Regions from separate parts of the Homo sapiens genome. Here all the other regions are linked to region 3. Evidence: fine-mapped expression QTL. A gene starts in region 3. Each other region holds a variant in brackets. All regions are shown on one strand. Distances are between the middles of the regions. Region 1 overlaps UBAP2 (ubiquitin associated protein 2). Region 2 has its middle 13 kb from the start of CCL27. Region 3 holds the start of ARID3C (AT-rich interaction domain 3C).

Region 1 (8,181 bases), 640 kb after region 3:
AAAATAGTTAAATGTAGTTAAAATGCAATAGATATTAAATCATAGATTTATTCACTGATACTTGAGAAACCTGCATTTTGCCTAGTCTGTGATCGTTCTAGTGATGAAAATGCTAAGTAACAAGTATCTCTTGCTAATGAGAATAAACTGAAGAGTTTCTTTCATCATTACTTCAAGCATAGCACCATGTTGAAGATCCTTGAGAAAATATGTCTAGGAGTGTGTTTTGTGATAGTAGCAGAATTCCACTTGTAAGACTTTAGGGTGTCATATAACTTAGTATGTACATGGAATGATGTTTTTTCTTCTTTTTTTTGAGGGGGGAGACAGGGTCTCGCTCTGTCTCCTGTGCTAGAGTGCAGTGGCACAATCATGGCTTATTGCAACCTTCACCTCCAGGGCTGAAGCAATCCTCCTACCACTACGCTCGGTTAATTTTTTGTAAAGATGAGGTCTCACTATATTGTCCAGTCTCGAACTCCTGGGCTCAAGCAATCCTCTCGTCTCTGCCTCCCAAAGTGTTGATTATAGTTGTGAGCCACTGCGGCTGGCCTTTGAAGTGTTCTAATCCAAATGGTGAAAGCCAGCATATGGAATATTGTCCCTGACAAAAAATTTGTATTGGATTTTCCATGAATGATGACCGTGTACTCATATAGTTCCACCTCATATTTAAGTTTAGGAATCCTGTGTGCTTGAATTAAATTTGATTATTCAGATACTTGATCTTGGGTATTCTGAGAATGTTGGTACGTATGTGTGTGCTGCTGATTAATGATCTGCTCCTTGGTCAACTTGGAGGAAGATTGATTTGTAGTTAGATTCTACCAGTGTTAGTGAAAAGACATGCATGGAATGGCCACAAAAAAATAAGTAAACATGTCCTCATTGTAAACTCAAGAGTCTAGAAGAGGCCATCTTCATGTAGAAGGATTATGTAATTCTGTATTTGTATAGAAGAATCTTAATATCAAGTGCCAGTTTTTTGTTTGCCTCTAACCATTTTCTGATATGTTCACTAGCTTATGGAAGTGACAGGGAAAAATCAGGATGAATGCATAGTGGCCCTACATGATTGTAATGGAGATGTGAACAAAGCTATCAATATATTGCTGGAAGGGAATTCAGACACAGTAAGTATTATTAATTGATTTGCATTGTTTACATTTGTCTCCAATTCCGTAGCACATTTTCAACTTCACCTTGTTTGGGGGTAGGGATGGAATGGATTATGGTGCCATTCCATATTTGTTTTAAGTTCCAGAAAGAACGATTACCTGAAAAGACTGTTTTTGTTATGTATGGTTTCTTCATGAAGTCGTAGAATCTGATGACTTGAAAGAGAACTTGGTGATCTACTCCAGCCTTACAGTTTCCAAAAATCTCTGTGCCTGTGTATATTTTCACCACCCCCACCTGAAAAGCATCTCTTGGCTCTGTTGCTTATGTTTCTTCATCTCAGTCCTCACCTCTGATTACTTCTTACATCTCTATTATAACAGAAAACCAGGATTTGCTGGTATATGTATTTGCTTATGTGGAATATTAAGTTTTCTTTTTTTTTTTTAATATTGGGTTAAGTTTGGTGAGCTTGCAGGCTCATGAGCTCAGGCCTTGGATTTTAAGAAGGATACAGCTAAAGCTACACCAGGCACTTGTCAGCCCTAAAATTTTGCTGTGTGTATATATTTATATTTATATATTATAGTTTTTATACATATGTATATATTTATTTATAAATATATATTTATTTAATAATTTTAAATTTTAAATAATTTAATTTTAAATTAAATTAAATTATTTAATAATATATTTAATAATATAAATATATTTATATATTTAATAATATAAATATATATATTTAATAATATAAATATATTTATATATTTAATATATATTATATATAATATTTATAATATTTGTTTAATAATATATAAATATATATACTTTATATATATATTTATATTTAATATATATATTTATATATTTATTTATTTTTTTGAGACAGCCTCACTCTGCCACCCAGGCTGGAGTGCAGTAGTGTGATCTTGACTCACTGCAACCTCCGTCTCCTGGGTTCAAGTGATTCTTTTGCCTCAGCCTCCCAAGTAGCTAGTACTACAGGCATGCGCCACCACGACCAGCTAATTTTTGTATTTTTAGTAGAGGTGGGGTTTCGCCATGTTGGCCAGACTGGTCTCAAACTCCTGACCTCAGGTGATCCACCCGTCTTGGCCTCCCAAAGTGTTGGGATTACAAGTGTCAGCCACCACACCTGACCTGTGTTTATGTTTCTTAAATTGAGGAAACTATTTTAGAGTAGATTAAAAAAAAATGACTCACCTAAAAGAGGATACAAAGATGAACACATCAATAACTACCTTTCCTTGGAAAATTTAAAACAAACAAACTGACCGTGTCAGTGTTCAGATTTAATTGAAGTCTCATTTTAGGGTCATGCTGCATTAGGTACAAGAAATACAAAAATGAACTCTGAGAAACTGAAAGCTAAAATGACTGTGTTTTTAGTTGATGTGAAACAAAGAGAATGAATTCTTTTAAAGTAAAAATTAACTAATGTGGAAAAGATTTCACTGTTTGAGTGTAGCAGTAATTGTTGGTAAAATTCCATGTAAGAGAACACTGGTACACAAGACAAACCATCAAATTTGTGATTTTTTTTTTTTGGGAAAACCATATTATATGATAAATTAAAATTTTGAATAGTTTTTGTTTACTGACCTGGGACTAAGTATCCTGGGTTTTGCAAAATATGGAGGATCTGTTTACCTTATCGCTAATGGGTACAGCAGAGAGTGGCTTTCAGTTATTTTCAAAGTGAACTGAAGAGCCTAACCGCCCTCTTTGTTTAGGGAAAAAAAAAAAAAAGAAAAAATCTTTGGGAATAAACAAAATAACCCAAATTGTTCACTGGAGAGGATCTTTTTGGATCTTTTTATGGTAGAGATAAGTCCAGACACTATTTTTTGTTGCCTTTCCTTTAGCTCCAGCAGATTTAATTCCTTTTCTCTGGTAGTTTGGTGAATTTTTAAGTTTTAAATGTCCAGTTTTCTCTTTCTGTTTTGAGTTTTAACACCCCCTCCTCCTTTGGGACCGAACCTGAAGGAGCTGGTTCTGGGCTATGTATTAGAAAGTAAGACTGACTGGGCACTGCGGCTCATGCCTGTAATCCCAGCACTTTGGAAGGCCTAGGTGGGCAGATCACGAGGTCAGGAGTTTGAGACCAGCCTGGTCAACATGGCGAAACCCCATGTCTACTAAAAATACAAAAAATTAGCCAGGTGTGGTGGTGGGCGCCTGCAATCCCAGCTACTCAGGCGGCTGAGGCAGGAGAATTGCTTGAACCCGGGAAGCAGAGGTTGTAGTGAGCCGAGATCGCGGCATTGCACTCCAGCCCAGGCGACAGTGCGAGACTCGGTCTCAAAAAAAAAAAAAAAAGAAAGCAAAGCTGAACTTTTCATGAAGAACACCTCTTTGGTTACCTCTTGAACGATTTTATAGTGTGGGCTATATCTGACTTCTTGTTTTCTTCAAAGATAAGAAAATAGCAAATGAAGTTCTGAATATAGTTGTGAAAGAATACACTTGTTCAGGGCTGAGTGGGCTGTGGGGGACAGAAGTAGAGGTAAAGTCTTTGTTTTAGTTGTTTGGTGTTTTGGGTTTTTTATTAAGACAGGGTCTCACTCCGTTGCCCAGGCTAGAGTGCAGTGGTGCCATCACGGTTTACTACAGCCTCGACCTCCC[G/A]GGCTTATGCCATCCTCCAGCCTGCCGAGTAGCCGGGACCACAGGCGCATGCCACTACGCTTGGCTAATCATTTTTATATTTTGTAGAGTTAGGGGGTCTCTGTGTTTCTATGTTGCTCAGGCTGGAGTCTTTGAAACCCTGGTTTGTTGAGGACCACTCTCTGGTACATCTTGTCTCTCATACTGTTTGCCTCATCTCTTACCTAGTTGCCATCTGCAGCACCTATGGCTAAACAGCTTTGATTATCTTCCCTTGACTGAGATAGAGTTAATTGGAGTAGGGTTGACAGAATATAAACACTGTGATGTTGCTAGGAGCAAGAGCATGAAGGCAAACGATTCTTTTCCTATTATCTAACCTTCCTCTGTGCTGAAACAAAATTATTACTTGGAAAAGGTGTTAAGTGGAATCGTCCATGATGTTTTTAAGGATAAATTTATTTTTTCTTATGTAAGTATATCTGTCACAAAGGAAGATATTGAACATAAGTACTGAACTTTTTGTTTCATCATAATGTTTGGTTGATGTGACAAAATTGTTTTGAAGTATCGGTCTCTTGAATTAATGTACTTAACTCTTTTTAGTAAGTTGTTTGTGTTGGTAGTTTTTGGCAAAGGCAAAGTGGTGGGAGAGTAATTTTTGAACTAGCTGGCTTCGAAGACTGCTGTTCTGATTATTATGTGGTGGCTGGGAGGACCTCTCCTCTTAGAGTTTCTTCAGACCTGTTCTGCAACTAGCAAAATACCGATAACAGAGGTTGCCAGAAATTCTCTTGGAAATCCTCCATAATTACTTGGTTAACTTTTTAAAGTATGCATGTGTGTATACTTTGCAGACTTCAGCAAAATACACAGTAATCTTTTTAGCAGTTACTATGGTATTGTAAAGATTGCTTCTTAAAGGTTCTTTTCCCTATTTGTGCCCCCCCCCCTCCGCCCGATAAGTTGTCTTTGTAGAGCTCATAAACCAAGACTTTGCTTGAGGGGCAGTAGGATGGGGAGGGTATCTTTTTTTTATTTTTATTTTTTTGAGATGGGAGTCTTGCGCTGTCACCCAGGCTGGAGTGCAATGGCATGATCTCAGCTCACTGCAACCTCTGCCTCCCAGGTTCAAGCAGTTCTCCTGCCTCAGCCTTCTGAGTAGCTGGGATTACAGACATGTGCCACCACGCCTGGCTAATTTTTTTTTTTTTTTTTTTTTGAGATGGAGTTTTGCTCTTGTTGACCAGGCTGGAGAGTAATGGCGTGATCTCGGCTCACCACAACCTCCTGCCTCCCGGGTTCAAGCGATTCTTCCGCCTCAGCCTCCCGAGTAGCTGGGATTACAGGAATGCGCCACCACGCCCGGCTAATTTTGTATTTTTAGTAGAGATGGGGTTTCTCCATGTTGGTCAGGCTGGTCTTGAACTCCCAACCTCAGGTGATCCACCCGCTCAGCCTCCCAAAGTGGTGGGATTACAGGCATGAGCCACTGCACCCGGCTGCTAATTTTTGTATGTTTAGTAGAGATGGGGTTTCACCATGTTGGCCAGGGTGGTCTGGAACTCCTGACCTCATGATCTGCCCACCTTGGGCTCCCAAAGTGCTGGGATTACAGGTGTGAGCCACCGTGCCTGGCCAGGGTATCATTTGCTATATGAAATGGGGTAAAGTGTTTCTCAGATGTTTTACAAAGACAGCTGGCCCCTTTATAAAGATAGAGTACCTTTCGGCGAGGCTGTGTAAAGATGTACATTGTGTATACATACACTTTATGCCAACTCTTCTGGGATGATTTTTCCAGGACCTCTGGAATTTACTTTTTGTATTCTAACCTAAGAGGACTGGATTCTGTTTTACACAGTTGTCTAGTATTTTCATATTAGCAAACATAATAAATTGAGTTTGTTCAGTGTGGGCATTATTTTCTCTGGCATAGATAAGCTTTATTGTTTAATTAGAAAAGAAATGCAGAAAAATATTAAAGATTAAATCAAATTAAACATCCTCACTTAAATAATGACTTATACCTCTTCCTTCAGTAAGTACATAGGCTCCTATTTGAACTAAAAAATGTAATTCTATATGCTGTTTGCTGATAGCTTGCTTTTTCTATCAAGGACCTCTTTCTATATGTACCTATGTAACTGGTAAAATGGCTACATACTGCTCCATTTATGGATACACTAGACTACTTAGTCTCCTGAATTTGATATTTTGGGAATCCGCCTCCCCTCCTTTTATGCTGTTGATCATTTTGTCTGCACATAAATGTTTGAACAATTCTTACGTTATTATTATTATTATTTTTGATACAGAGTCTCGCTCTGTCACCCAGGCTGGAGTGCAGTGGTGTGATCTTGGCTCACTGCAACCTCCACCTCCCAGGTTCAAGCCTTCTAGGTTCAATTGATTCTCCTGCCTCAGCCTCCTGAGTAGCTGGGATTACAGGTGCCTGCCACCACTCTCAGCTAATTTTTGTATTTTTAGTAGAGATAAGAGTTTCACAATGTTGGCCAGGATAGTCTCCAACTCCTGGCCTCAAGTGATCTTCCTGCTTTGGCCTCCCAATGTGCTGGGATTACAGGCGTGAGCCAGTGTGCTCGGCCACGTTGTTTTATTTGAATAAGGGCCTAGAAGTAGAATTGCTGGGTTGAAAGAGTATGCACCAAATAGGCCAGGCGCAGTGGCTTATGCCTGTAATACCAGTACTTTGGGAGGCCGAGGTAGGTGGATCACCTGAGGTCAGGAGTTCGAGAGCACCCTGGCCAACATGGTGAAACCCCGTCTCTACTAAAATTACAAAAATTCACTGGGTGTGGTGGTGTACGCCTATAACCCCAGCTACTCGGGAGGCTGAGACAGGAGTTATCACTTGAACCCAGGAGATGCAGGTTGCAGTGAGCCGAGACTGTGCCATTGCACTCCACTCTGGGTGACAGAGTGAGACTCTGTCTCAAAAAAAAAAAAAAAATTGGGGGGTACTATTTCTAAGTAACCTTCTAGAAAGGTTACAATAGATGCATGCTCACCAGAACTGTATGATAATACCTCATTGTTTCACCTTAACTATCAGGTGATAGTATATTCAGTCTTCATTATTAAAGCTTAGAGGTGGAACATAATTTATATCTTTTTCATATCCATTTTATATCTAATTAAATATGTGAGTTCATCACAGCTTTGCAGAAGACCAGATATTCCATTTCAAAAAAAGAGTTTGGAAGTTGGCTTCCACTGTTATGGAAATAATTCAACTTATCACCCAAATTTTAGTTTATTAATTTCCAGTGCTAATGTTTACTTTGGATATATAATGTCAAATTTTGTTTTTCTGTAAGATTTTTAAAAAGCATAAAACAGTTACTCTTAATTTTGGATGGAGTCATTTCCAGTCCCTTCTGAAATAAGGCAGATTATGAATAAGTAAATGGAAACTATTGGGCCAATTTTAGGATTTCTCTGTAACTACCCTGCTTGATAATTTTTATATCCACTTATAGTCAAGAATGTAGTATCTTTTTCTTTCTCAGCCATTTATATATATATATATATGGTAGATTAGATTTGGTATCACCATTAGGGGAGAGGTGGAGAAGGGAGGTTATATAAATTATTTGACTTCTCACTAGAAGAATTCTTTGGAGGTTAAAAATTTAGGTGCTTTATAAATTTTTTAAAAACCCACCAAAACCAAGCTAAAATTTTACTTATCTGCCATTAAATTGTTTTAGATAATTAGTTTGAATAATGGAACAGGCAAGGTTGTATTCCTGGAGCTTTTGGGGCATCATTCTAAGTAATTTTGTGGTCTTTGAATTAATAAGTAGATTTAAGGCCTAATAGAGAGGTAAGTGAGGTGGTGTAGAATAGGAGCTTGGGGAAATGACTTTTACTGTATTCCTAAATTTGCATAGGAAAGGGCTTTATGTTGGGAAAATGTACAGTATTTTGTCAGGTCAGCTAATAGCTGTAATTATTTAGCAACAGGAGCTTAGCAAGAGGATTGTTACCTTCATCATCAATAAAGTAGAACTATAGGGAAAGAATTTAAATGATAAGCAGGTGAGCTGCAAGCTGTGGGTAGTTAGGTTTGAAAGATACGTGCATGTGCCGGGCGCGGTGGCTCACGCCTGTAATCCCAGCACTTTGGGAGGCCAAGGCGGGCAGATCACGAGGTCAGGAGATCGAGACCATCATGGCTAACACGATGAAACCCCATCTCCACTAAAAATACAAAAAATTAGTTGGGCGTGGTGGCAGGCGCCTGTAGTCCCAGCTACTCAGGAGACTGAGGCAGGAGAATGTTGTGAACCTGGGAGGCGGAGCTTGCAGTGAGCTGAGAGGGCGCCATGCACTCCAGCCTGGGCGACAGAGCGAGACTCCGTCTCAAAAAAAAAAAAAAAAAGAAAGATACATGCATGTGCCTTTGATAAT
Region 2 (8,181 bases), 47 kb before region 3:
TTCATACTGCATGGTAATTGGCCACAGACACCTCAAACACCACTGGATCTGATGAGTCAAAGGGCCAAGTGAGAGACAATGGCACTGCCACCAATTCTACTGCCACCACCAAAATGGATTCCCCATGGTCCTTGCTTCTTTGCATCACTAATACTTGATTCACAGCCCTGAGAAGGTACATCCAGATTGGTTGGACTTTCTTAGATGCAAGAGAGGCTGGGAATGTGAGTATCTGGCCTGTAGGGCTTTTATGCAGGAAGGGGGTTCAAACCAGACAGGTGTTAGTTTAAACTCTAAAGGGACAGAACTAATGGAATAGACATATCTAAAGGGGCCGGGTGTGATGGCTCAGGCCTGTAATCCTAGCACTTTGGGAGGCCAAGGCAGACGGATCGCCTGAGGTCAGGAGTTCCAGACCAGCTGGCCAACATGGTGAAACCCCATCTCTACTAAAAATACAAAAATTAGCCGGGCATGGTAGCCCATGCCTGTAGTCCCAGAGACTCAGGAGGCTGAGGTGGAAGAATTGCCTGAACCCGGGAGGTGGAGGTTGCAGTGAGCCGAGATCGTGTCACTGCACTCCAGCCTGGGTGACAGAGCAAGACTCTGTCTCAAAAAAAAAGAAAAAGAAAGAGCCAGGCATGGTGGCTCTTAATCCCAGCACTTTGGGATGCCTAGGCGGGCGGATCACTTGAGGTCAGAAGTTCAAGACCAGCCTGGTCAAAATGGTGAAACCCTGTCTCTACTAAATATACAAAAATTAGCTGGGTGTGGTGGCAGGCGCCTGTAATCCCAGCTACTCAGGAGGCTGAGGCAGGAGAATCGCTTGAACCCAGGAGGCAGAGGTTGCAGAGTGAGCGATACTGCGCCATTGCGCTCCAGCCAGGGCAACAAGAGCAAAACGTCATTCCAAAAAAAAAAAAAAAAAAAGGAAGGAAGGAAGGAAAGAAAGAAAATATATAAAGGGGGGGAGTTTATTAAGTATTACCTCACACGATCACAAGGTCCCACAATAGGCCGTCTGCAGGCTGAGGAGCAAGGAGAGACAGTCCGAGTTCCAAAACTGAAGAACTTGGAGTCCAACATTCAAGGGCAGGAAACATCCAGGATGGGAGAAAGATGTAGGCTGGGAGGCTAGGCCAGTCTCTCTTTTCACATTTTTCTGCCTGCACATATTGCCGGCAGCAATTAGATTGTGCCCACTCACATTAAGGGTGGGTCTGCCTTTCCCAGCCCACTGACTCAAATGTTAATCTCCTTTGGCAACACCCTCACAGACACACCCAGGATCAATACTTTGAATCCTTCAATCCAATCAAATTGACACTCAGTATTAACCACCAGGACACCTAAAAGAGAAGAAGCCAGCCATTCAAGGAGGAATGACCAGTGTGGCCAGAGGACAATGGACGAGGAGGAGATGGCATAAGAAGAGGTAGGACACAGAGGCTGGAATCATAGGATCCAAGTCTTTGCAGGCCACAAGAAGGAGTGAGGATTTTGTTCTATAAGTGCTGTGAAAGATTTAATCTGAGGAGTAACATGATCTCATTAACAGTTTACTGGCTGGGCGAAGTGGCTCACACCTGTAATCCCAGCATTTTGGGAGGCCCAGGCGGGTGGATCACGAGGTCAGGAGATCGAGAACATCCTCTTTCTAACACGGTGAAACCCCGTCTCTACTAAAAATACAAAAAATTAGCCAGGCGTGGTGGCGGGCACCTGTAGTCCCATCTACTCGGGAGGTTAAGGCAGGAGAATGGCGTGAACCCGGGAGGCGGAGCTTACAGTGAGCCAAGATCGTGCCACTGCACTCCAGCCTGGGCGACAGAGCGAGACTCCATCTCAAAAAAAAAAAAAAAAAAAAAAAAACAGTTTACAAAGACCCTATCAGCAGTCAGGAAAAATGAATTGTACAAAGAATGGGGAAGTCAGAGGGCTTTTCCAGTAGTCTAGGAAAGAGATGATGCTGGCCTAACCTAGGTGGTGGCAGTTGGAATAGAGAAGAGGAATCCAATATGGACTTATAAGTAGAACATGAGGCTGAGCTGATGGATTATATTTGAAGCATAAGGGCAAGGGAAAAACCAGGGATGACACCAGGCTTCAGGCCTGAGCCCCTGGAGGGATGGTGGCTTCCTTTTCTGAGATGGATAACTGGGGAGAAGACGAAGACAAGCTAGGAGGGAGGTGTTGAGAATCAGGAGTTTGGTTTTGGAATAAGGTATCTGATATAGTTTGGAAATGTGTCCCTGCCCAAATGTCATGTTGAAGCGTCATCCCCAGTATTGGAAATAGGGCCTGGCGGGAGGTGATTGGATCACGGGAATGGATTTCTCATGGAGGGCTTAGCCCCACCCCCTTGGGGCTGTCCTCCTGAAAATGAGTGAGTTCTCATGTGATCTAGCTGTTTAAGAGCGTGTGGCATCTCCCTCTGTTTCTCTCTTGCTCCTTCCCCTGCCATATGAGATGCCTGCTCCCCCTTCAGCTTCTGCCGTGATTGTAAGCTTCCTGAGTCCTCCTCAGAAGCAAATGCCAGTGTTATGCTTCCTGTATTGCTTGCAGAACTGTGAGCCAACTAAACCTTTTTTCTTATAAATTACCCAGTTTCAGGTATTTCTTTATAACAATGCAAAAACAGCCCAATCCAGTATCTGTAAGAAAGCCAAGGAAATCCCAAATAGGCAGTTGGCTCTGCAGCCTGGAACCCAGAAGTAGATCTGTACACCATCCCTGGCTCTTCCAGGGTCTCACTCTGTTGCCCAGACTGGAGTGCAGTGGCATAATCATGGCTCACTTCAGCCTCAACTTCCCAGGCTCAAGAGATCCTCCACCTCAGCCTCCTGAGAAGCTGGGACTACAGGGGCCCGCCACCATGCCCAGCAAAGTTTTGTATTTTTTGTAGAGATGTGGTTTCCCCATTGTGCCTAGGCTGGTCTTGAACTCCTGGGCTCAAGTGATCCACCTGCCTTGGCCTTCCAAAGTGCTGGGATTACAGGCATGAGCCACCATGCCCAGCCCAACTTCTACCTCTTTAATGTCTCTGGTATCTGCGCCACTTCTTCAGCCCTGCTACTACAGCCCAGCCCTGACTTCAGCCTCCTTCCTAAGGGCAGTTGCAACATCTGGGCTTGGCCATCCCCATGGCTCCTTCCTCAGGAATTTTTCAAAATTATATATGACCAGAAATAACTCCCCCACTCCACCTCCCACACACATATAGCCTCTCCCACCACTAGCCCTTTCCCCGCCCCACCTACATTGGGATTAATCACAAACTCTTATGTCCCTCCTCTGAGCCTTTGTGCTTGCTGTTCATTCTGTCTGGAATGTCCTTTCTCCATTCCCACCCATCCTTGAGGTTCTTTTTGCAAAGCTATCTCCTTCAGGCAGCCTCCCCTCCCTACTTCCCTCTGACACCCCAGGGCTCCCCATCTCCAACCACATAGCAGAGGTCACCCTCAGCTTTACATCCAGGGGCCCTTGTTTCCTGAGCTTCTCCCAAGCAAGCTCAGCCCAGGCCCAGGCACCCTGAGGTTCAGAGTGACCCAAACTGCAGGGAATAGAGGAGATAACTATTGAGGAAACCCTGGCAGTGGCGTTATTTCAAGCTCCAGGGGATAGGACGCAGGGAAGGGGTGTATGCTATTGCTCAAGACTTCCCCCTATCCTGATATCCCATCACCTCCAGAAGTTCTGTGCAATGTTCCACCCACACTCTGGGACTGCAGAGCCAAGCTCTGCCCCTCCAGCTGGACTGAGACCCTCCAGACATGAATAGAGGATTTGCAAAAGGATAGGAAGTGAAGCAGACCCCTTCCCAGGATCAGGGACTTTCAGAAGTTGAGTAATTTGGTTTCTTGCTCATTTCCAGCCCCTTTCTGGAACAAGACATGACAGC[C/T]CACTTAGGCCAGATCCCCTCTTCCACAGGCCAGGAACCACACACTCCATTTTCCCCGTATGCTAGACGCCCTCTGCAGGCCCCATGAGGTTGAGAGTCCAGGCCAGGAGCCCCTTTTCCCTAGGCACTGGACGCCCCCTGCAGGCCCTTGCGGATTGAGAACCACAAAGAGATGGATTGAAAAAGCAGCCAGAAAACAAACCTGCCCAGCGCAGTGGCTCACACCTATACTCCTAGCACTGCAGGAGGCCAAGGCGGGAGGATCACTTGAGCCCGGGAGTTTGACACCAGCCTGGGCAACACGGTGAAACCCCATCTCTACTAAAAATACAAAAAATTAGTGGGGTGTAGTGGCACGCACCTGTAGTCCCAGCTACTTGGGAGGTAGGAGGATAGCTTGAGCCCAGTGGTGGTTACAGTGAGCCGAGATCACGCCACTGCATTCCAGCCTGAGTGACAGAGCGAGACCCTGTCTCAAAAAACAAAAATAACAACAACAACAAAAACACCATACACAAACACATAATTGCCGACACCCTTACCCACCTACGTGTCTCTACCCACACACATACATACACAGACACATAATCAATCACACAGCCAATCACTCACATACACCAAGGACACACTACAATCGTTTAAGCATATAATCACAGTACAAACACAAGGGCACTCCCTGTTCATGTTCCCAATAATAAAACATAATATGTCTTCCCCATTGATCCAGACTAGGATTGGCAAACTATGGCCCATGGGCCAAATGCAGCCTGCCACCTGTTTCTGTAAATAGAGTTTTATTGGAATACAGCCATGCTTATTCATTTAAATATATCTATGACTGCTTTTGTGCTGCAACAGCAAAGCTGAGTAGTTGCTACAAAGACTGTATGGCCCACAGAATCTTAAATATTTACTATCTGGACATTTACAGAAAGTTTACCAATCCCTGATCCAGACTCAGCTTCAGAATTGAAGTTGGCAAGTGAAACAAGACTAATTGTCTTCAGTGTCTTGGCATTGAAAGATGGTCAGAGAAATAAATGGATGGGATGGACGGATGGATAGATGGGCAGATGGACACATACAGGTAATAAAGCAGAGTTTTGCTCCGAATACCAGTGTTCCACTCATTATAAACTGGGAAATCTTGGGAAAATTAACCTTTCTGGGTCTTAGTTTCCCATCTGTATAATAGGGATAATACAGTCATTTTTACTGAGGGCTTTTTCGGTTGCAAACGGCAAAAACCCAATTCAAAGCACCTTGAGCAAAAAGTTAAATTTGTTATATCAAAACTAGGTATGAGGCCAGATGCAGTGGCTCACGCCTGTAATCCCAGCACTTTGGGAGGCTGAGGCAGGTGGCCTGCTTAACCTCAGGAATTTGACACCTGCCTGGGCAACATGGGGAAATTCTGTCTCTACAAAAATTAGCCAGGCTGGCCAGGTGCGGTGGCTCACACCTGTAATCCCAGCACTCTGGGAGGCCGAGGCAGGCAGATCACAAGGTCAGGAGATCAAGACCATCCTGGCTAACATGGTGAAACCCCGTCTCTACTAAAAATACAAAAAATTAGCCAGGTTTGGCAGCGGGTGCCTGTAGTCCCAACTACTCTGGAGGCTGAGGCAGGAGAATGGCGTGAACCTGGGAGGCAGAGCTTGAAGTGAGCCGAGATCACACCACTGCACTCCAGCCTGGGCGACAGAGCGAGACTCCGTCTCAAAAAAAAAAAAAAAATTAGCCAGGCTGTGGCACCCACCTACTCAGGAGGCTGAGGTGGGAGAATCACTTGAGCCCAAGAGGTGGAGGTTGCAGTGAGCCGAGATCACACCTCTGCACTCCAGACTAGGCAACAGAGCGAGGCTCCATCTTAAAAAAACAAACAAACAACAACAACAAAAAAGCTTCTCATTAAGGAGAAGATTATCTGCAACCCTGGCTGGATCCAGGGGTTGAAATGTTGTTATCTCCTTCTCTTACCTCAATTCCTCTCTTTTTTTTTTTTTTGAAATAGAGTCTCGCTCTGTAGCCCGGACCGGAGTGCAGTGGCACGATCTCGGCTCACTGCAACCTCCCGCTCCCAGGTTAGAGAATCCTCCTGCCTCATCTCTCGAGTAGCTGGGACTGCAGGTACATGCCACCACGACTGGCTAATTTTTGTATTTTTAGTAGAGACAGGATTTCACTAGGTTGGCTAGGCTGGTGTCAAACTTCTGACCCCAGGTGATCTGTCCGCCTTGGCCTTCCAAAGTGCTGGGTTTACAGGCATGAGCCACCATGCTCTGACTAATCTTTTTGTGTAGGGATCTCATTCCTGTCATAGACAGGTTGCTATGGTTTGAATATTTGTCCCCTCCAAAACTCATGCTGAAATTTAATCCCTGGCTGGGCATGGTGGTGCACACCTGTAGCTGTAGTCTCAGCTACTTGGGAAGCTGAGGCAGAAGAACTGGCTGAGACCAGGAGTTCAAGGCTGCAGTGAGCCATGATCATGCCACTGCACTCCAGCCTGGGCGACAGAGTGAGACTTCGTCTCTTAAAAATATATAACAAATTAAAAATAAATAAAAGAAATTTAATCCCAAATGTAGCAATATTGAAAGGTGGGGCCTTTAAGTAGTGATTGGGTCATGAGGGCTCTGCCTTGATGAATGGATGAATCCATCCATGGAGTAATGGGTTATTATGGGTGTGGGACTAGAGGCTTCCTAAGAAAAGACACGGGCTAGGACACTCAGCCCCCTCACCATGTGATGCCCTGTGCCACACCTCACGACCCTGCAGAGAGTCCCCACCAGCAAGAAGGATCTCACCAGGTATGTCCCCTCAATCTTGGACTTCTCAGCCTCCATAACTGTAAGAAATAAATTATTTTTCTTTATAAATTACCCAGATTTAGGTATTCTGTTAAGAAACAGAAAATGGTCTAAGATACAGGTGCTCTTCTAGTAGCAAGAAATATGGCCACTAGAAGCCTTAAGCCTAAATTTTTATATTGATTGATCTAAAAGAGACTCTCTTTCTCCTAGCATCCAAACATCAAATCTCATAGAAAGCTCTGGTTAACTGTACTTGTGATACATACTCAGTTCTTCAGTCTATCACAGTGGCCAGGAAAAGGGGTACTCTGATCAGAGCACTGTAGCTGACAGCCCCACCAAGACCATGTTAAGTGGGAAAGGAGTTTCCTACAGGAACCACAAAAAGGGGTATAGAAAAGTAGAAAAGTGGTCTGCATAAACAAAAACAGCCCACAGCAATCCACTTCATAGATTTGTCATGAGACAATGAATTTAAAGCATTTTGCATGGTGCCTGGCACTTAAGTATCATAAATGTTAATTATTACCATAACTGAGAGACAAACAAATGAAGGGAAACAATAAATGAATAATGGTTGAACATACAGATGAACAGGTCACAATGAATATATGAAAAAATAAATGAAAGATGAAAGAAGGAAGAATGGGCTGATGAAGAGATAAAGATGAGTAGACATATAGACACATGGATGGATGGATGGATGGATGGATGGATGGATGGATGGATGGATGAGGCAGAAAAATACAGGCAATTAAATCTGCTCCACTATATACTCTAGATCTGGAATGGGAAACAGAATAGCACTCCACAATAGTGTCTTCTGAGAGGTCTATCTCTTGGGTCTGGCAGAACAGTTCTCTGGGTGACCGTACACTGACCCAGTTCTCCTCCCTTTCTCACTTGGAATGCAAAATCTTGAGATAAGGAAGAGGTGACAGAAACAGACAAGGAACAGGCTCTCTTCTAGTCCCACCCCAGAAACAATATCCTTCAATGTTTTAGCCCAGGAATTCACATTGCCCTGGGGTATAAAACCCAAGGCAGGCTGCTTTCTGGAGTCCTTGGCTGCAGTGCAAGTGCAGCATAGGCAGATGAAGCCATCTGCCCTGGGCAGCTTTCCTGAGCCTTGGGGGCTGCCTCACAATTAATCCTGGGATTCTGTTTCCCTTGCTGCCTACCTGAGAGTAATAAATCCATTTCATATAACTTGTTGGATGTGTTCTCCCACTGGACTCAGACAAATTGGCAACCAGTACACAGTAAGCCTGCTTCTCAGGACTCCCTCATTCCTTTCTTTTCCTGTTACTCTGTGAGCAGACCAAACCCTCTCCTCAAAAATCCCTCTCAATTCCCAGGATAGGGAGGCCACGGTAGAGAATGGGCATGTTCTAGGCCAAGTTCTCCTCCAGCTATTCTAACTCAGCTCTGGGGCATAGGAAAATGGGTCAATAAGGGAGA
Region 3 (8,181 bases):
CCCTATTCCAACCCAGTGGCCTCCTTGCTTTTCTTCCAACACATCAAGCAAAATTCTATCCCAGGATATTTGTACCTGCTATTCTGACCGTAGTGCTCGTCCCTAGGTATCCACGTAGTCATAGCTCTCTTCCTCCCCTCCTTCAATTCCTGCTCACTGAGTTCTTCAACACTTATATAATAGTATCTCTTGCATGGTGATTTGAAATACCTTCACAAAATTTTTGATGCTCTGTCCTTCAAGAGGTGAAGCCTAAATTCCTTCCCCTTGAGTGGACTAGACTTAATTATGTACTTTCACAAATAATGTGGCATAAATAACAGTGTGTGACTTCTAGGACTAGGCCATAAAAAGCATTGCTGTCTAAAGAGTCTCTCTTGGATCATTCTGGGGGAAACCAACTGCCATGTTGAGAGGACATACAAGCAATCCTATGGAGAGGCCCATATTGCGGGGGGAACAGGCCCCCTGCCAAGGGCCATGCAAGTGAGCCATTTTGGAAGTAGATCCTCCAGTTCCAGTCAAGCCTTCAGATGACTGCATCCCTGGCCAACCTTTTTACTACAACACCTTAGAGGACAATGAGTCAGAACCATCCAGACCCACAGAATTGTGAGAAAATAAATGTTTTTGTTTTAAGCTGCTAAATTATGGGGTGATTTGTTACACAGCAATAGGTAACTAATGCCCCCTTTTATGTTCCCCCCAACCCAGCTACATTTTTCTCCATGGTACTTACCACTATCTGACACACTGTATATTTCCCCCACTTAGAATTGTACCATTATAATAAGGACTTTGTCTTATTTGCTCCTGTGTCCAACAGTGCCTGGCAAAAAAAATAGATAATAAATATGTGTTGGATGAATGAAGCATGGGTCTCTGAAGGTCTAGGTCTGTCTCCGTCTCTGTGAGGTATAAGACCAGACTGCGGGTATGAGAGGCAGCCTTTCCTTTTCACAGATGAAGAGAGATAAACCAAGTCCCAGTCAAGCATATTCCTTCCCCTCAGCCCTTCCCAGTTGTAGCCCTCCTGGCCCAGACCCCAAAAGTGGATTAACTTTGCTTGATTGATTTGGGAGCTGGGGGAGTGACTGCCCAGCCCCTTACCATTCAACCCAAACCCTACAAAGCGATCTCCAAACACTCAGAACTGGAATTTCCCCAAGCCAATTCCTACCTTTCTAGGAAGACTCTGGCCACCTACCTTTGTCCATGGACCTCCTCTGAGCAGCCAGGGGAAGCTGTGGTGGGGAAAAGGGAGCAAGCAGGGCACAAGGGTTCTGTGGATTGCTACCCTCTGCTCTCCAGTCTTCCAGTAGACTTCCAGGGCATGTCTGTCTGCCTGGCACATTCACTGATTCTCCCCTCCCAGCATCAGGGAGGGTTGGGCAGAGGAGGAGGCTTGGCTCTGCCCCAGGATACTCACACCAAACAAAGCCATGGGGGAGGAGGCATCAGTACCGACAGTGATTGGATCACTGGAGCTTCTGGAGGCTGGGGGGTTCTGATGGGCTCAGAGGTCTGAAATCTGAGGTGGAGGACACTGGGGCAGCCAAAGGAATGAATGGGGTGAGCCTCAGCGTGGCCAGGAATGGGCCATAGAGAACCAGGACTTAGTGCTGCAGTAGAAGCTGGGCACAGAAGGGTGCAGAGAAGGGTGGCGGCTGGAGGCAGGGAGAGCAGGGAGGAGGCACCCACCATGGTCAGACCCACCATGGTCAGAAGAGCCGGTGGTTTGAGCCAGAGCAAGCTGAGGCTGAGAGGAGTGGACTGATTGGGAGAGGACAAGGGAGGAGGGAGGAGACAAAGGTCGTGTTTGGATTCCTGCCTTCTGGGGGTGTGAGGTCAGAAGACAGTCTCTGGTGCCACAGTTTCATACCTATGCCAAGTGTCACCCCTACAGACACCTGCTGTTCACTTACACACTTGGCATCACCTCACAGTGTCCCTCTGTTTGGTAAGTGGTCCCCTTGGGCACAGGAAGAAATAGGAAGTATGAGGATTCCCGGGAGGAGTGGGGTCCAGGCTGTTCAGAGCAGAAATTCTGAGAGGCCTGCCACTCAGAACCCCCAAATAAGGAACAGCATTTCAGCGTCTTGGGAATAGTTAGGGGGAGGGCGCAAAGCAGTGGGCTGAGGGGGTCTGGAGATACAGATGTGGCAGTCAGGCACACATAGGTGGAGAATGTGTGTGAACATGGGCGAAGTGCCGGTCACTGTTGAAACAAACCTATGATGAGTACCAGAGGTTCATTATACTATTCACTTGTCTATGTTTCAAAATTTTCATAATACAGGCTGGGTACGGTAGCTCATGCCTGTAATCCCAGCACTGTGGGTGGCCAGGGTGGGTGGATCACTTGAGGTCAGGAGTTCGAGACCAGCCTAGCCAAAATGGTGAAACCCCATCTCTACTAAAAAGACAAAAATTAGCCGGGTCTGGTGGTGGACGCCTGTAATCCCAGCTAATTCCAGCTATTCGGGAGGCTGAGGCAGTAGAATCACTTGAACCTGGGAGGCGGAGGCTGCAGTGAGCCCAGATCGCGCCACTGCACTCCAGCCTGGGTGACAGAGACTCTGTCTCCAAAAAAGAAAAAAAAGAAAAGAAAGAAAAAGAAAAGAAAAGAAAATTTCCATAATAGAATGTCAAAAGAGACAAAAACTGTGTGTGGCTGTGTATCTGCATGCGGTGAGTGTGCAGTCAGCTTAAAGACCTCTGAGAGTGTGTGAGTGCATAGGTGTGGGTCCACCACCATGTGCACTCATGTGTGCAAACCGCAGCATGCCCGCAGTGGGGGACAGCACGTAGGCAGGGCAGGGGTGCTCAAGGCAAAGGGAGAAGCTTCTATTCTGACCAGACCCTCCACGCACACCCCAGCATCTTGCAGAGGGATTCCCCTCTTGATCACAGCGTGCCCAGGCCATTGGCACTGTGGTGACCATGTCACGGAACGTGTGAGACTGGGAAGCTATGCGCCTGAACTTGTGACAAGGTGTGTTGGTGTGTGGATGCGGCTATTTGTATGTGGAAGCCCAGTGCCGAGTGTGGGTGTCGGGGGCACGACTTGTGAGGCTGGGCGGGGCTCTGGTCCGGAGTCCGGTGGCGGTAGAGCCCTCATTTTCGCACGATTCCCCCGCAGCTTTCCAGCGCCCCCTGCCCCCGAAGCTGGCTGGAAAGAAGGTGGGAGACACCTGTTGGGGAGCTGAGAGCGGCAGATCCCACAGGGGCCTCTCCCCATGCGCCCCGCCCGCCCTGCCCCGCTCGGGTCCCGCCCCCGCGGCCGCCGCAAGCAGCGCGGCGAGTGAGCGCACAGCCGCCAGAGGAGCACAGGGCGGCGGGAGCGCACCGCCGGGACCCAGCCGAGGCCAGGGCCGCCTGGGAGGCGGGCGGAGCAAAGGCAGCGCCGTGGAGACGCCAGGGGCAGCGGGCCACGCCAGGCAGGTGAGTGCGGCCGCGGGGCGCCCGGAGCGAGGGAGCCGGGCGTCGCGACTCTGCCGCCTCCTGCCCGTCCGGTCCCGTGCCCGTCCCAGGCTCTGCCCCACCGCCCTCCATCCCCGCGACTCCTTGGTCCCTGTCCTCTGCCCCTCTCTCCGGCTGTTTTTCCCGTCCCTGTCTCTGTCGGTCCCTCTCTATTTAACTGTCTCTTTCTAATCTCTCTCTTCTGTCCGTTTCCTGCTGTCTTGGTCTTTCCCTATATCTCAACCCCTGTCTATTTGTCTATCTCCGCCTCTGTCTCTCCGTCTCTGTCCGTCTCTGAGCTACCTGTCACTTAGGTCTTTTATCTGTTGCTCCTCTACCTCTCTTACCCTCCCTGTCTCTCTACCCAATATTCTATCTCTCTCCATCTCTGTCTGTCTACCCTGTCTCTGCCTGATACCTCTGCCTCTCTCCATCTTGGTCCCTCTCAGTCTCTGTGTCACCCCACTTCTGTCTCTCCTTGTCACCCTGTTCCATCTCTATTTTCACATCTCCCTGTCATTGTCTCTGTCGGACATCCCCCTTCTCCTTTTCTTTCTCTCTCCCTTCCTTCACCATTTCCCGATGTCTCTTGGTCCCCGTCACCCTCTCTGATCTGCTCACTCTTCCAGTCCTCAGTCAATGGCCATTTGATTCCCCGGGTCTGGTCCTGTTTCTGTTCACCTCTGGGAAAGCCATCTTTCTGCCTCTTTCCTTGTGACCCCTGCACTTCCCTGAATCCATGACCACCTCCCCCTGTGTTGGGGGGCTCTGGGGGCAGTAGGGCCCAGCACCCATAATTCCCTCCCCCACAGGCGGCCCTTTCCTCGGGGTCCCGCCTGGTACCAGGGACCCCCTCAGCTGGGGGACTGCGCCTGGAAGCTGTCATGGAGGCCCTGCAGAAGCAGCAGGCAGCTCGGCTGGCCCAGGGGGTGGGGCCATTGGCCCCTGCATGCCCGCTGCTGCCACCGCAGCCTCCCCTGCCTGACCACCGGACCCTACAGGCCCCTGAGGGGGCCTTGGGGAATGTTGGGGCTGAGGAAGAGGAAGATGCTGAAGAAGATGAGGAGAAGCGGGAGGAAGCCGGGGCAGAGGAGGAGGCAGCTGAGGAGAGCCGTCCAGGGGCCCAGGGCCCCAGCTCGCCTTCTAGCCAGCCCCCTGGACTCCATCCCCACGAGTGGACCTACGAGGAACAATTCAAGCAGGTAGGACCTATGCCCTCAATGTCCGGCCCTCTTCCCTATCTCTCTCTTCTGGCAAAAGCACAGCCAGGTGATTAGCAGCCCACCCACCCCCACCACCCTCTGCAAGATGAAAAGAGACACAGAGACACGGAGACCTATAGAAAGACAGAGAGAAGATTGGAGGATAGTGACAGGGAGGGAAAGACAGATGCCTGGCTAATTTTTTAAAATTTCTTTTGTAAAGACAAGGTTTTCTTGTATTGCCCAGGCCGGTCTCGAACTCTTGACTTCAGGTAATCCTCCCACCTCAGCTTCCCAAAGTGCTGAGATTACAGGGATGAGCCACCATGCCCAGCCAGGTGTAGGGAAGGCAGTCTAGGGGCTGGGGATTCCAATGCCAGCACCACCCTGCCTACCTTCTCACACATCAAGTCACAAGGTCATATTCCAGTGACCAGTGGGGGTGACCCAGTTGCTTCCTCTGTCTTTGGAAGCAGAATGGAGGTTATCACTCACTTGGCAGGCTGATACACCTTTCCTTTCTTTCCTGTCACCTCCTCCCTAACCCTGGCCCCATGCAAATCTCCCTGGCCTGAGTTCCACGGATGATAGTTCCCAGCCTGGGATGGCCACTACAGCCGCAGTATGACTAAAGGGCTCCTCCGCAACTCAGAATGACAAGACTTCATTCACAGGGCCTTAATCTGAGGTTCTTTCTCCCTGGAGAACCCTTCTGGGTGTTATTCTAAGGACACTACTCAAGGCTGTCACTATGAAGGTGTTACACAGGGCTGTGTCTCCAGGTGTGCTATTCTGGTACTTGTAGGGTGTTGGTCTGGGTATATTCCAAAAGTGTTGATCTGTGACTAGTACTCTGGCATTAGTATAAAACTGAGTGTTACTCAGGGCTCTGTTCTGGATATGTGGTCTAGAGACTGTTTCTCCTAGGTATAATTCTAGGGGTTATTACTTGGATCTAAGTAATAACATCTTAGACTTAGGGCTCAATTTTTGTGGGAATGTGGCTCTAAAGGTGGATCTGGGGTTTATTACTCATGGATATTTTGTTTGTTTTATACTCTGAGGATTCTTATGGGGATGGAGTGATGGAATATTATCTATAGGTGTTACTCAAGGACTGTTACTCTGGGTCAGTGACTCAAGGGGTGGTTCTCTTGACTAGTATTCGGGAGTTGATGCAGGAGGTGGGACTCCAGATTACCAGGAAGAGTTGAGATGGCCTGTGGATCCTTTAAACTCTGACCCCACAGGTCCTAGGTGGTACAGGGCCAGTGCCTCTATAGCAGCGTCTGTAGGCAGGTTAACTGCCTCTGAAAGGAAATCAGACCAGAAGATGAGCTGAAGGGCCCTGGGTGTCAACCCAGGAGCTTCTGAGCATCACCCTGCCTGAGGGGTGGGTTAGGAGCATCTCTGCCCTTCAGTCACCCCCAGCCCTGGCATACAGGGATGTGAACACCATGAAGTCCTTGCATGAATGAATCAGAGCATCAGATATATGTTTGTCTCCTCAGTCTGGTATACAACCCCAGCCTAGCTTCCTTCCTGGGGCTCTAAATTTCCCATGAGGGTGGGGGAAGACTGAGCCCCAGAGGGCAGGCTGAGCCTCCAAGCTCCATCCTGTTCCTCTCTTCCCTTACTCCCCAGATGGGTGGTTTGAATGGCCCAGGGTACCACTACCAGTACCAGTCTCTGTATGTACTAGAAAAAGGCACCCCTGCCTGCCCCTAGGCGGAGAGAGCCTAATGCTAATCCCAGGGAGTCCACATTGAGATCCTACTGACTCCTTCAGCTAGGGACCCTTGTTCAGGGTACAACCTGAATTGGGGTCAAGGGAGGGAGGGGGAGTCAGCAGAGCTGTAGAATGACCCCAATCCTTCCCCAGCTGTATGAGCTCGATGCAGACCCCAAGAGGAAGGAATTTCTGGATGACCTGTTTAGCTTCATGCAAAAGAGGGGTGAGTGGCATGATGTGGGGGAAGGGCCCTGGAATTGCCCCCTTACCAGGTTTGAGGAAACCCGGTTGGGTTCTCCCTGCTGAGGCCTGAGCTTGGCAGCACCTGTCCTTTGGGCCCTCGATAGCGTCTTTAACCTCTGACCCTGTCCCCCTCCTCCACCCCAGGATTAATTAGTGGCCAGCCCACTGGCAGGTTAATGAGTTTGGGATCAATTGGGAGGGTGGGAGGGGGAACTGATGGGAGCCTGGCCTGGGGTGGGAGGGTCCCAGAATCAGAGGGCTGAGAATGCCTTGGTTCTGTGTCCAGGGTCCTTCCTCCAGCCATGTCTTCCCTGTTTTCCCTTGATTCAGGCAGGGGACACCTCACGTGCTCTACAGCAGGAAGGACTAGGAATAGACTGAAGGAAGGACTTCCCAAGGGGTGGGCTGGGGACTATGTGAGTTGAGGCTGTGGAGGAGGAGAAATTCCTTTCCAGGAATGTCAGAGCTGGAGGAGAACGCAAGAAGGGTCCAGGAGGGCATCAGGGTGGGCGGCAGTCCATCACTTCAGCTTTTTCCCAGATTCATGGGACCGAACACTGACTCATTATCTCTCTCTGCAAAGCTAATTAACTCACTCAGAGCGCAGCCTGATAAGCCGCTAATTAACTGGCTGCCCTGTTACCCCCCGCCCCCCCACCGCCTTTAGTGCAGCTGCTGGCCCACTTCCCACTCCCGGCCCTCACCCCAGCACCTCTTTCTGGTCCCTTACCTTCCCAGGGACCCTCAGTAGGGACCTAAGTCCTTTTGGTTCCCAGGGAGGCCCATTCTGGTTCCAGTGTTCCCTCTCTGGCCCTTCCTCGAGGCCTCCCCTCCACTGGGGTAGCGGGTGTGAACCGATCCCAGCATTGCCTGCCTCCCTTCGGTCCCTGCCTCCCACCGCTCCAGCTGCAGGGGGAGGGGGTCCCGCGGGGCCGATAATTTTCCCCCATTAATCAGGCCGCAGCTAATTGTTCGGGTCCAAAGGCGCGGCGGAAGGGGACGGGATCGGTAAGGAATTAACTGGGGCCCATCGCTCAGCGCAGACAGGCCCCTTTGTCAGGACTGGCCGGCGGGGGCGGCGCGGGCTGCGGAGTCGGCGGGCCGAGGCGGGAGTTGATTCTTTTCCCGCCCGTCATCCCCCAGCCTTGGGCAGCCACCCGGGGGCTGCTGCTTAGGGGAGGCCGGCTCTTCAGCACTGTCCGAAAGTCCTTCCTGCGGTCTACCCCAGGGGACAGCAAACTAAAGTTTGCAGGCCAAACCCAGCTGCCTGCAAGATAAGAATGGTTTTTACTTGTTTAAATAGTTGGGGGACAAAATTTAAAGATGAATAACATCTCCAGACTGGTGAAATTCGAATTTCAGAGTCTATATTATTGGAACACAGCCGCATCCATTCCTTCAGGTATTCTCTATGGCCGCCTTTAGGCTACAATGACAGCGTTGAGTAGTTGTGACAGAGACCATTTAGCCATCTGGCCTTTTACAGAACTTTGCCCCCCCCCGTTCTAGCCTCCTGTCCTTCTTGCTAAAACAGAGACCCTG

The links.
Region 1: its variant is fine-mapped to the expression of ARID3C in cerebral cortex (GTEx, PIP above 0.99).
Region 2: its variant is fine-mapped to the expression of ARID3C in cerebellum (GTEx, PIP 0.98).

Annotation. Positions count from the first base shown.
Region 1 is chr9:33,989,175-33,997,355 of GRCh38, reverse strand. It overlaps UBAP2 (ubiquitin associated protein 2), which reads left to right. Exons shown (of 29, transcript NM_001370062.2): 4 at 1,023-1,133. Among named protein-coding and RNA genes, the nearest start is that of SNORD121A, 40 kb to the right of the region's middle. RefSeq lists an enhancer at 8,008-8,181. The variant G/A (reference allele first, on the strand shown) is at 3,766.
Region 2 is chr9:34,671,081-34,679,261 of GRCh38, reverse strand. It overlaps a transcript of PHF24 not described here. Among named protein-coding and RNA genes, the nearest start is that of CCL27, 13 kb to the right of the region's middle. The variant C/T (reference allele first, on the strand shown) is at 3,902.
Region 3 is chr9:34,624,180-34,632,360 of GRCh38, reverse strand. It overlaps ARID3C (AT-rich interaction domain 3C), which reads left to right and starts at 3,295. Exons shown (of 8, transcript NM_001017363.4): 1 at 3,295-3,444; 2 at 4,275-4,664; 3 at 6,547-6,619. The coding sequence starts at 4,347. RefSeq lists silencers at 3,177-3,336, 3,387-3,486 and an enhancer at 7,619-8,167.